Homo sapiens: one gene and its partners. The protein of the gene in region 1 purifies or fractionates together with the protein of each later gene. This does not show direct contact. Each region holds a gene or a part of one and is shown on either strand. Other genes may lie near its edges.

The links.
Region 2: the proteins of SETX (region 1) and PAK2 purify together in Homo sapiens (affinity purification with mass spectrometry; one large-scale study listed by BioGRID and IntAct). This does not show direct contact.
Region 3: the proteins of SETX (region 1) and CCKBR purify together in Homo sapiens (co-immunoprecipitation; one large-scale study listed by IntAct). This does not show direct contact.

Annotation. Positions count from the first base shown.
Region 1 is NC_000009.12:132,344,955-132,348,608, reverse strand, and holds part of SETX (probable helicase senataxin), read left to right. Parts: intron 1-2,137; coding exon 2,138-2,348; intron 2,349-3,654. UniProt on the Homo sapiens protein: Probable RNA/DNA helicase involved in diverse aspects of RNA metabolism and genomic integrity.
Region 2 is NC_000003.12:196,742,756-196,746,409, reverse strand, and holds part of PAK2 (serine/threonine-protein kinase PAK 2), read right to left. Parts: intron 1-3,654. UniProt on the Homo sapiens protein: Serine/threonine protein kinase that plays a role in a variety of different signaling pathways including cytoskeleton regulation, cell motility, cell cycle progression, apoptosis or proliferation.
Region 3 is NC_000011.10:6,266,259-6,269,912, forward strand, and holds part of CCKBR (gastrin/cholecystokinin type B receptor), read left to right. Parts: intron 1-3,410; coding exon 3,411-3,654. UniProt on the Homo sapiens protein: Receptor for gastrin and cholecystokinin. The CCK-B receptors occur throughout the central nervous system where they modulate anxiety, analgesia, arousal, and neuroleptic activity.

The DNA of each region.
Region 1 (3,654 bases):
TTGCCTGGTATATACTAGGTGCTGAGTAAATGTTTATCACGGATGGAATTGAAACCTGGATCAGAATTTTATGATCTGTTGCTTTTAGTCACATTGGTATAAAATAATTTAATGAAATAAAGTCATTGGGAGGGGATTTGTTTCATAATTTTTTGGTCAGTGCTATAATACATGCATGTATCTGAGTATCTGAATGGCCTGGGTTTTTGTTAGTGGGTTGTTTTTTTTTTGTTTTGTTTTTTTTTTGAGACAGAGTCTCACTCTCTTGTCCAGGCTGGAGTGCAGTGGCGTGATCTTGGCTCACTTCAACCTCTGCCTCCCAGGTGGGTTCAAGCGATTCTCCTGCCTCAGCCTCCCAAGTAGCTGGGACTAAAGGCACGTGCCACCACACCCGGCTAATTTTTTATTTTTAGTAGAGATGGGGTTTTACCATGTTGGCCCAGCTGGTCTCAAAACTCCTGACGTCAGGTGATCTGCCCACCTCGGCCTCCCAAAGTGCTGGGATTACAGCTGTGAGCCACTGCGCCTGGCCAGGGTTTTTTTTTTTTAATTGGTAATAATAACTTCTTTTTTTCTTTTTTTAATGGGCAAATGGCATAAACCTTTAAGGGCAAGCATATTTTCCAGTCATGATAACAAAAGTGAAAGATATAATTCTAAATATTTGGCTTTGAATATTTGGTTTATTTATTGATGAAAAACAGAACGTAGACCATAGAGATATATACAGTATATAGAGGAGAGGATGATTAGTAATGGACTTGTGTTGAGAAACGTGCACTTTATAAAGTTTTCTAATTATGAAGCTATCCAGCGTCTTTTATACCACAAGCTGCACTAAGGTAGTTAGCTATGGCTAGAACATAGAAGGGAAGACATAGAAGGGCCTCGGTTTTGCATTTGACAGAGAGGCTCCAGCTTCTCTTTTTTTTTTTTTTGAATGTAGTTGATAGGGATGTTGAGATATTTATAGAAAACTTCTACAAGAGAAGTGTTTAAGGCTGAGTGCTGTAGCTTACACCTGTAATCCCAGCACTTTGGGATGCTGAGGCAGGTGGATTACGAGGTCAGCAGTTTGAGACCAGCCTGGCCATCATGGTGAAAGTCCGTCTCTACTAAAATACAAAAATTAGCCAGGCGTGGTGGTGGGCGCCTGTAATCCCAGCTACTCAGGAGGCTGAGGCAGGAGAATCGCTTGAACCTGGGAGGCCAAGGTTGCGGTGAGCTGAGACCACGCCATTGCACTCCAGCCTGGGCGACAGCGAGATTCTGTCTCAAAAAAAAATAAAAAGTGTTTAAACATAGCATACTATTTTTTGTTTTCTTGTTTTTTTTCGTTTGTTTGGTTTTTTGTTTGAGATGGAGTTTCCCTGTTGTTGCCCAGGCTGGAGTGCAGTGGCGTGATCTTGGCTCACTGCAACCTCCGCCTCCTGGGTTCAAGCGATTCTCCTGCTTCAGCCTCCCGAATATGGGATTACAGGCATGCACCACTACGCCTGGCTATTTTTGTATTTTTAGTAGAGACGAGGTTCCTCCGTGTTGGTCAGGGTGGTTCTGAACTCCCGACCTCAGGTGATCCGCCCACCTCAGCCTCTCAAAGTGCTGGGATTACAGGCAGGAGCCAGTGTGCCTGGCCTGTTTTCTTTTTCTCTTAGAGGCAGGGTTTCCCTATGTCATCCAGACTGGAGTACAGTGGCACAATCATAGCTCACTGTAGCTTCAGATTCTTGGGCTCAAGTGATCCTTTTGCTTCAGCCTCCAGAGAAGCTAGGACTGTAGGCATGCACCACACCTAGCTAATTTTTCTATTTTTTTTTTTTTTAGTGACAGGGTCTTGCTTTGCTACCCAGGCTGGTCTCGAACTCCTGACCTGAAACAGTCCTCCTACCTCAGCCTTCCAAAATGCTGGGATTACAGCTGTGAGCCACTGTGCCTAGCCAATATCTCATACTCTGTGTACTCACTTTTCATAAAAGTGGCCACATTTGAATAGTTTTCTTTAAATCTAAAATACAAGCTCTAATACTTTACATTTCAGAATTTTTGTACTTAGGAAAAGGCTTTCTAGGTCGTCACATTCAGTGTATTTTGTTGATGATAAGACATAACGCACACTGCCCATTTTATTTTCCTCTAGGTTTTATGGGAATTAGAAACCTTACGTCTCATAAATCACTTTGAAAAATCCATGAAGGCAGAAATTGGAGATGATGATGAGTTATATATAGTAGACAATAATGGAGAGATGCCACTGTTTGACATCACTGGGCAAGACTTTGAAAATAAGCTTCGAGTTCCTCTTCTTGAAATACTGAAATATCCTTACTTGCTTCTACATGAACGTGTTAGTGAGTATCTTGATGGTTCCTCAAGTTATATCAGTTTTATTATTTTAGTACCATAAGAATTTAGGCTTATCTATATTGCAAATTTGTTTGCTAAACATATAATTAGGATATATAATTAGGACTTCATTTTTTTTCCAACGTTTTTTATTTTTTGAGTTCAAACACAAAATACCTATTTTTGGGGCACAGTTCAAACTTATCTTGTTCAGAGGGTAACTGAAGATTGTTTTTATTTTTTTTTAGAGACAGGGTCTTGCTGTGTCTCCTAGGCCGAAGTGCAGTGGCGCAGTCATGGCCCACTGCAGCCTCTACCTCCTGGGCTCAAGTAATACTCCTGCCTGAGCCTTGTGGGTAGCTGGGAGTACAGGCGTGTGCCATTGCGTCCAGCTAATTTTATGTTGTGTTTATTGTAGAGATGAAGTTTCACTGTTGCCCAGGCTGGTGTTGAACTCCTGGGCTCAAGCAGTCCTCCCACCTCAGCTTCCCAAATTGCTGGGATTATAGGCACGAGCCACTATGCCTGGCTCTCAACATTTTATTGTGAAAATTTTTTAACATAGAAAAGTAAATTATACAGTGAACATGATATACCCATCACATAGTTTATACGGTTGTTAACATTTTGCTATATTTGCTTTATTACGTATCTGTTCACCTCTTTGTTCAATTATTAATAATTTTCATTCTCGCCGGGCATGGTGGCTCACGCCTGTAATCCCATCATTTTGGGAGGCTGAGGCAGGCAGAGCACCTGAGGTCAGGAGTTCAAGACCAGCCTTGCTAACATAGTGAAACCCTGTCTCTACTAAAAATACAAAAATTAGCCAGGTGTGGTGGCAGGCACCTGTAATCCCAGCTACTCAGGAGGCTGAGGCAGGAGAATCACTTGAACCTGGAAGGCGGAGGTTGCAGTGAACCAAGATTGTGCCACTGCACTCCAGCCTGGGTGACAGACAGAGACTCTGTCTTAAAAAATAGTAATAATAATAATTTTCATTCTTGTAGTATGTCTGTGGCAGGGTTTCTCAGCCTTGCATTGGTGACATTTTGGATAATCCTTTGCTGTGGGCTGTGCCGTCCATTGTAGGATGTGTAGCAGCATCCCTGGCCTTTGTCTACTAAATGCCGCTAGCACTCCCTATCTCCTTTGTGACAACCAAAAATGTCTCCAGACATTGCTGAATACCCCTTTTGGGGGGTGAGGTATAAAATCACCCCTGGTTGGGAAATGCTATTCTGTAGTAATTTTCATTAACCACTATGGCATGGCTTATTATAGCTGTCTAGATTTTGGTTGTTGATATTT
Region 2 (3,654 bases), on another chromosome or scaffold:
TTAATAGCAAATTTACTATTACATATCCTCAGCAATAGTTAAAAGAAGAAAACCATATCATCATCTAAATGTTACAATAGCATCTCATAAAATTCAGAAGCCATTCCTATTTTTTGTAAAGCAGAAACAGAATAAAATAATAATCTTTCTCTAAATCCAACAGCTGCCATCATCCCTAACTGTAAAAATATTAATACCAGAGTCATTTCAAGACAACGACACGTCTCTTGTTTAACCAAGTCTTGGAACTTCAGGCCAATGTAATAAAGACCTAAAACAGGGTTAAGGGCTGGGCACGGTGGCTCATGCCTGTCCAACACTTTGGGAGGCTGAGGCAGGCGGATCACGAGGTCAGGAGATCGAGACCATCCTGGCTAATACGGTGAAACCCCGTCTTTAAAAAAGAAAGAAAAAGAAAAAAAAAAAAGGTTAAATATTGTAACCATAGAAAAGTGACTGAAGTTACTATTATTCTCAGATAAAACAATGAACCTGGAAAACAAAATAAAGACGTTTACTGAAGTCCAGTAAGATAATAAAAATACCAATGAACAGAAAAATCTAGTTACTACTTCTTCTTTTTTTTTTTTTACTTAGAGATGGAGTCTCGTTCTGTTGCCCAGGCTGGAGTGCAGTGGCTTGATCTCAGGTCATTGCAACCTCCGCCTCCCGGGCTCAGACAATTCTCCTGCCTCAGCCTCCGGAGTAGCTGGAACTACAGGTGTGCACCACCACACCCAGCTAATTTTTTGTGTTTTCAGTAGACACAAGGTTTCACCACGTTGGTTAGGCTGTTTCCAACTGCTGACATCAGGTGATCCACCCACCTAGGCCTCCCAAAGTGCTGGGATTACAGGCGTAAGCCACTGCACCCGGCCAAATATTTTTATACCTGTATTTTATTTCTGTAGCAAAACTATTTTAAAACTCTTTTATCCCCACCAGGCATGAAAAAATTCCAGAAAGATTAAGATTGAAACACAATGGGCTGGGCACGGTGGCTCACGCCTGTAATCCCAACACTTCGGGAAGCCAAGGCAGGCAGATCACCTGAGGTCAGGAGTTTGAGACCAGCCTGGCCAACATAGCAAAACCCCGTCTCTACAAAAAAAAAAAAAAAAAAAAAATCAGTTGGGTGCGATGGTATGGTGCCTGTAATCCCAGCTACTCGGGAGGCTGAGGCAGGGGAATCACTTGAACCCGGGAGGCGGAAGTTGCAGTGAGCTGAGATCCAACACTGCACTCCAGCCTGAGTGACAGAGTGAGACTCTGTCACAAAAAAAAAAAAAAGATTGAAACACAATAATTATTAAAAGTACCAGAAGAAAACACATAAGAATGTTTTTTGTAAAGGTGGAATGAGGAAGATCTTAAACAGAAGGCAATAGATTAATATCTATTACATGTGAAGAGCTTCTACAACTCAATAAGGAAATATACATTACAAGTCTTTTTGGAATGCAATTCAAAAAAAAAAGAAAAAAGAAATTTAAATGCACACTTACAAGTCGTTTTAATGGAAATACTTATCTACATATGCATGTGCACAAAGACATACGTATAAGTTCATTAAGGCTCTAGTTTTAGTTGCTCAAAGTTAGAAATAACATAAATGATCACAAATAATTAAAGTACTACCATACAGCATAATATCTAATGACTTAAAAAGTAGAGGTGCCACTATATGTCATGATATGGAAAACAATACTTAATGATCAGATTTTTTATTTTAAAATCAACATAAAAAGTATCCGACACACAAAAGGTACTACTTATTTCTAACTCAGTAAGTAAAACTATTAACAGCGGGTAGGTACTTCTAAGGAATGGGACTAAAAAGAGAAAGTAATTTTCACTTTTTAAGAATTTTATAAGACAGGGTCTTGCTCTGTCACCCAGGCTGGAATGCAATGGTGCAATCATAGCTCACTATACCTCCAACTCTTGAGCTCAGGTGATCCTCCTGCCTCAGTCTCCCAAAGAATTTTCACTCTTTAAATATTTAATTGACTTGTTTGAACCTTTTATAATAAATATGTACTGCTTTTAGAATTTAAATTTAAAATAAGGAACAAAACCACTGTTCCAGTTTGTTACAATGGTTCTGCCAGCTGAGACTAAGGTAATTTTGTCTTAAAAGTTTTTACCACTTTCCAAATTTCTTATTTAATATTTTTTTCTACTTTTATTTTTGTCTGATTTAAGAGATGGGGTCCCCCTGTATTGTCCTGGCTGACCTCAAATTCCTGGACTCAAAGGATCCTCAGCCTCCCAAGTAGCTAGGACTACAGGCACCACCAGCCACTGCCCACTTTTCAACTTTTATACAGGAAATATGCATATTTTTAAATCTGAGAAATTTGTGTTCAAAAACCCTATGTTTTATTTCAGTGGTGAAACTATTACATATTTTTTCTCCTGAAAAATTACATTTTATTCATCCAAAAGTAATTTTTATTTTTAGTTACGGTCTCAGAAACTTCGTTCTTTTAGAAGGCAGTTTTTTGTTTGTTTGTTTGTTTGTTTTTGAGACGGAGTCTCACTCTGTCACCCAGGCTGAAGTGCAGTGGCGCAATCTCAGCTCACTGCAGCCTCTGCCTCCTGGGTTCAAGCAGTTCTCCTGCCTCAGCCTCCTGAGTAGCTGGGATTACAGGCGCCCGCCACCACGCCCAGCTAATATTTTTATTTTTAGTAGAGAATACTAAATTCTCTACTAAAGAATAGTAGAGAATATAGGTTTCACCATGTTGGCCAGGCTGGTCTTGAACTCCTGACCTCAAGTGATCGGCCCACCTCAGCCTCCTAATGTGTTGTGATTACAGGTGTGAGCCACCGCACCCGGCCTAGAAGGCAGTTTTAATTCTAAGTTTAGGAGTATCGACTCTACAGCATGTAAGAACAGACTATTAACTAACGTTTATTAAGACCTATAATTACAGAATCCTTTACCTGCATTCCCTCATTTGATCTAAATATCCCTGTGAAATTGGTATTATTATTATTATCCCCATCTTACAGGTGAGAAAAGCAAGTCTTGAAAAGAATGTATATCTTGCCCAGGGTAAAGTAGAACAGCAAGAATTCAAACGCAGGACTCTAGCTCCTAACCACATGGGATACATGGAGTAAGTACTAAAGAAACTCAGAGATAGTAGGCTGGAACACTGAAATCCTGAATGAATGTTCAGACTGACTACCCTTAACCAGGCAGGTGACCCTAGAAGGGAAGAAGTGATGAAACTCAACTCTGATCACAGAAGAAAACAACCAGTATTTTATTTTTTGGGGGCAATGAGGGATTTTTTTCCTTTCCTATTCTGCTCTGTTAAGGCACAAAAAGGATACTAGGAAGAGCTTGGACACACAATTTGCAATTAACACCCTCCCTCTGATTAGTCTGGAAACTCAACTCTTATACCAAACTGATGGAAACCTTTACGACTTAAAGTCTTGAAGTTGACCCAGTTTCTTTTTCTTTTTCTTTTTTAATGAGACGGAGTCTCGCTCTGTAGCCCAGGCGGGAGTGCAGTGGCGCGATCTCGACTCACTGCAAGCTCCGCCTCCCGGGTTCATCACGCCATTCTCCGGCCTCAGCCTCCCGAGTAGCTGGGACTACAGGCGCCTGCCACCAAGCCCGGCTAATTTTTTGTTGTA
Region 3 (3,654 bases), on another chromosome or scaffold:
AAGCAGGTGATCACCTGAGGTCGGGAGTTCGAGACCAGCCTTACCAATATGGAGAAACCCATCTCTACTAAAAATACAAAATTAGCCGGGCGTGGTGGTGCATGCCTGTAATTCTAGCTACTCAGGAGGCTGAGGCAGGAGAATCGCTTGAACCCAGGAGGCAAAGGTTGCGGTGAGCCAAGATCATGCCATTGCACTCCAGCCTGGGCAACAAGAGCAAAACTCCATCTCAAAAACAAAAACAAAAACAAACAAACAAACAAAAAACATGGAGGTAGTATGATGAATAACAGAGTACTGCAGGAACAAACAGTAGGAGGCAAAGCACATTAGGGATCAGGGACTTGGCTTCTATTCTGATTCAGCCCCTTATCAGGTGTGTGGTCTTGAGCAAAGAATGTTACTGCTGAGTTCGGTTTGGAAGTTTTTATAAATAGCATTTATTTGATGCCTACAATTTCTAAATAAATTGGTTTTTGTTATGAGAAAATACAGTCATGCATTAACTAATGATGGGGATACCTTCTGAGAAATGCATCATTAGGTGATTTCATTGTGTAAACATCATAGAGTGTTTGTCACACAAACCTAGAAGGTATAGCCTACTACATACCTAGGCTATACGGTATAGCCTACTGCTCCCAGGCTGCAAACCTGTACAGTATATTACTGTGCTGAATATTGTAGGGAAGAGTAACACAATGTTATGTATTTGTGTATCTAAACATAGAAAAGGTACAGTGAAAATACAGCATAAAAGATAAACCATCATACACCTGTATAGGGCACGTACCGTTAATGGAACTTGCAGGAGTAGATGTTGCTCTGGCTAAGTCAGTGATGAGTGGTGAGTGAAAGTAAAGGCCTAGGACATTACTGTACACTACTGTAGACTTTATAAACACTGGATACTTAGGCTACACTAAATGTATTTAATAATAAATTAAACTTAGCATACTGTAACTTTTTACTTTATAAACTTTTTGACTCTTTTGTAATAACACAGTGTAAAACAAAAAACACATTGTATGGCTATACAAAAATATTTTCTTTTTTTATACTCTTATCCTATAAGCATTTTTCTGTTTTTAACTTTAGAAAAAAAAAAAACCTTTCTGTTAAAACCAAGACACAAACACACACATTGGGCTACACAGGGTCAGGATAAATATTGCCATCTTCCACCTCTACATCTTGTCCCACTGGAAGGTCATCAGGGCAACACCACACATGGAGCTGTCATCTCCTATAATAACGGTGCTTTATTCTGGAATACATCTTAAAGGACCTGCCTGAGTCTGTTTTATAGTTAACTTTTTTAAAAAAATAAGTAAGAGTATACTCTAAAATAATGATTGAAAGTATAATGTAGTAAATACATCAACCAGTCACACAGTCATTTATTATCACTATCAAGTATTATGTACATCATTGTATGTGCTAGGCTTTTATATGACTGACAGCACAGTAGGTTTGTTTATACCAGTATCCCCACAAACACATACGTAATGCATTATGCTGCAATGTTACAATAACATTACTAGGTGATAGAAACTTTTCAGCTCCATTATAATCTTTTGTTGTTGTTATTTTGGGTTTTGTTTGAGACAGAGTCTCACTCTGTTGTGCAGGCTGGAGTGCAGTGGCACTATCATAGCTCATTGCAGCCTTGAACTCCTGGGTTCAAGCAATCTTTCTGCCTCAAACTCCTGAGTAGCTATGACTATAGGCACGTATCACCACACCCAGCTAATTTTTTATGTTTTGTAGAGACGGGACTTTGCTATGTTGCTCAGGCTGATCTCAAGCTCCTGGCCTCAGGTGATCCTCCCGCCTTGGCCTCTCAAAGTGCTGGGATTACAAAGATAAGCCACTGCACTCAGCTGTTCATTACAATCTTATGAGACCACCATCGTATATGAAATTGGTCATTTACCAAAACATCGTTATTCAGTGCATGGCTGTAGTTTTCAATTTGGGAGCTAAAATGAGAATCAGTCAAAGTATGGGGCTCTGGAAGAGGGGGCTGCAGCTTTGAGGCTTTCCTTCTCTGCAATCTAGGAGGCTCTGTCCCCTGCCCTCTCTACCTTCCAGCTCTAATCCCTCTCATGCTGAGGCCATAGGTGTGAGTAATTCAGTCCTGTTCAATCCAATTCGATTTTATCTAAATCTGCTTGGCTGTGATGTGGTGGTCCAAAGATTAATCCATCTTTTAATAGACAATGACACAAAAGAATGGGGTCAGCCTCCCAGCCCCTCTGCCTCACACAGGTGTCCCTCCTATGAGCTCCAACAGCACCTTATACATCCTTCAGCCTCACTCCTTATCACATCTGTTTATGTATCTGAGTTTACTTCCCCACTGTGAGCTCTCAAATGGCAGGGATCTTGTCATGTTCATCTCTTTGTCCCCAGTGCCTAGCACAAAGGGAGTCCTCTGTAAATGTTTATAGAGTGAGAATGAATGTTTGGAGAGAATTAAAATACAAGGCAGAAGTAAAATAGGCTGTAATAGTTGTGTAAGAAACAGGCATGGGTCAGAGAAAGAGGAGAGTAGAAGGGCCTTACAGAAGGGCCTTACAGAAGAAGTAGCAGTCAATTTGAGTCTTGACCAACAAGGGATGAATAGGAATTCACCAGATACAGAAAATAAGCTTGTGATGAGGGGTAGAAGTTGTGAGGAGGGTTGGTAAAAGAGTATTCCGGTCTGAGAAACCAGCTTGAGCAGGGAGAGAGTCACAAGTGCAAATGATGCATTCAAGAAATTGAGTCATCCAGTGGCTTGCTTAAATGCCTGCTGTACAGGGAGGGGGTGGGAGAGAAAGAAGTCCCTTCTGGGAGGATCTTGATGATATTCTGAGGGGTTGCAGACAGTAGAGAGTAAGTGAAGTATTTTTTTTTTTTTTTTTTTTGCTTTTGTTTTTAGAGAATAAAGACATGATCTGATGTGATTCAAAAGGTAGTGGGTTGTCAACAGTGTAGAATACTCTAGCGGGGTCAAATAGAGTAGGCTAAGAAAGGACCTTTGAATTTAGCAGTTAAAGATTAGTGTACTTGGGAAGAAGTATGCACTGATAGGGCACAGAATATTGTATTGTAATGGAATGAAGAGTAAATGAGAAGACACAAATATCCTCTTAAGAAGTTTGTCTGCAGAAAGAAGGAAAGATTTGGAACGAACCTTGAGAAGAGACAGGCTTTCTTAAGGAAGGGCAGAGTTGGGCCAATTTAACCAAACCTCAAGGGGTTAGAAGGCTAAAGGATTCAAGTTCACCATTTACTGAGCAGTTCATCGGTGGGGAATGTAGGCATCTGGCTGGGTAGTGAGGGTTGGGGATAAGACGGAAGGAGGGGGATTTGACTGAATGAAGGCTGACCCCCTACTGCCACCTCTCCCTTTTCTTACCCAGAATTGGAGCTGGCCATTAGAATCACTCTTTACGCAGTGATCTTCCTGATGAGCGTTGGAGGAAATATGCTCATCATCGTGGTCCTGGGACTGAGCCGCCGCCTGAGGACTGTCACCAATGCCTTCCTCCTCTCACTGGCAGTCAGCGACCTCCTGCTGGCTGTGGCTTGCATGCCCTTCACCCTCCTGCCCAATCTCATGGGCACATTCATCTTTGGCACCGTCATCTGCAAGGCGGTTTCCTA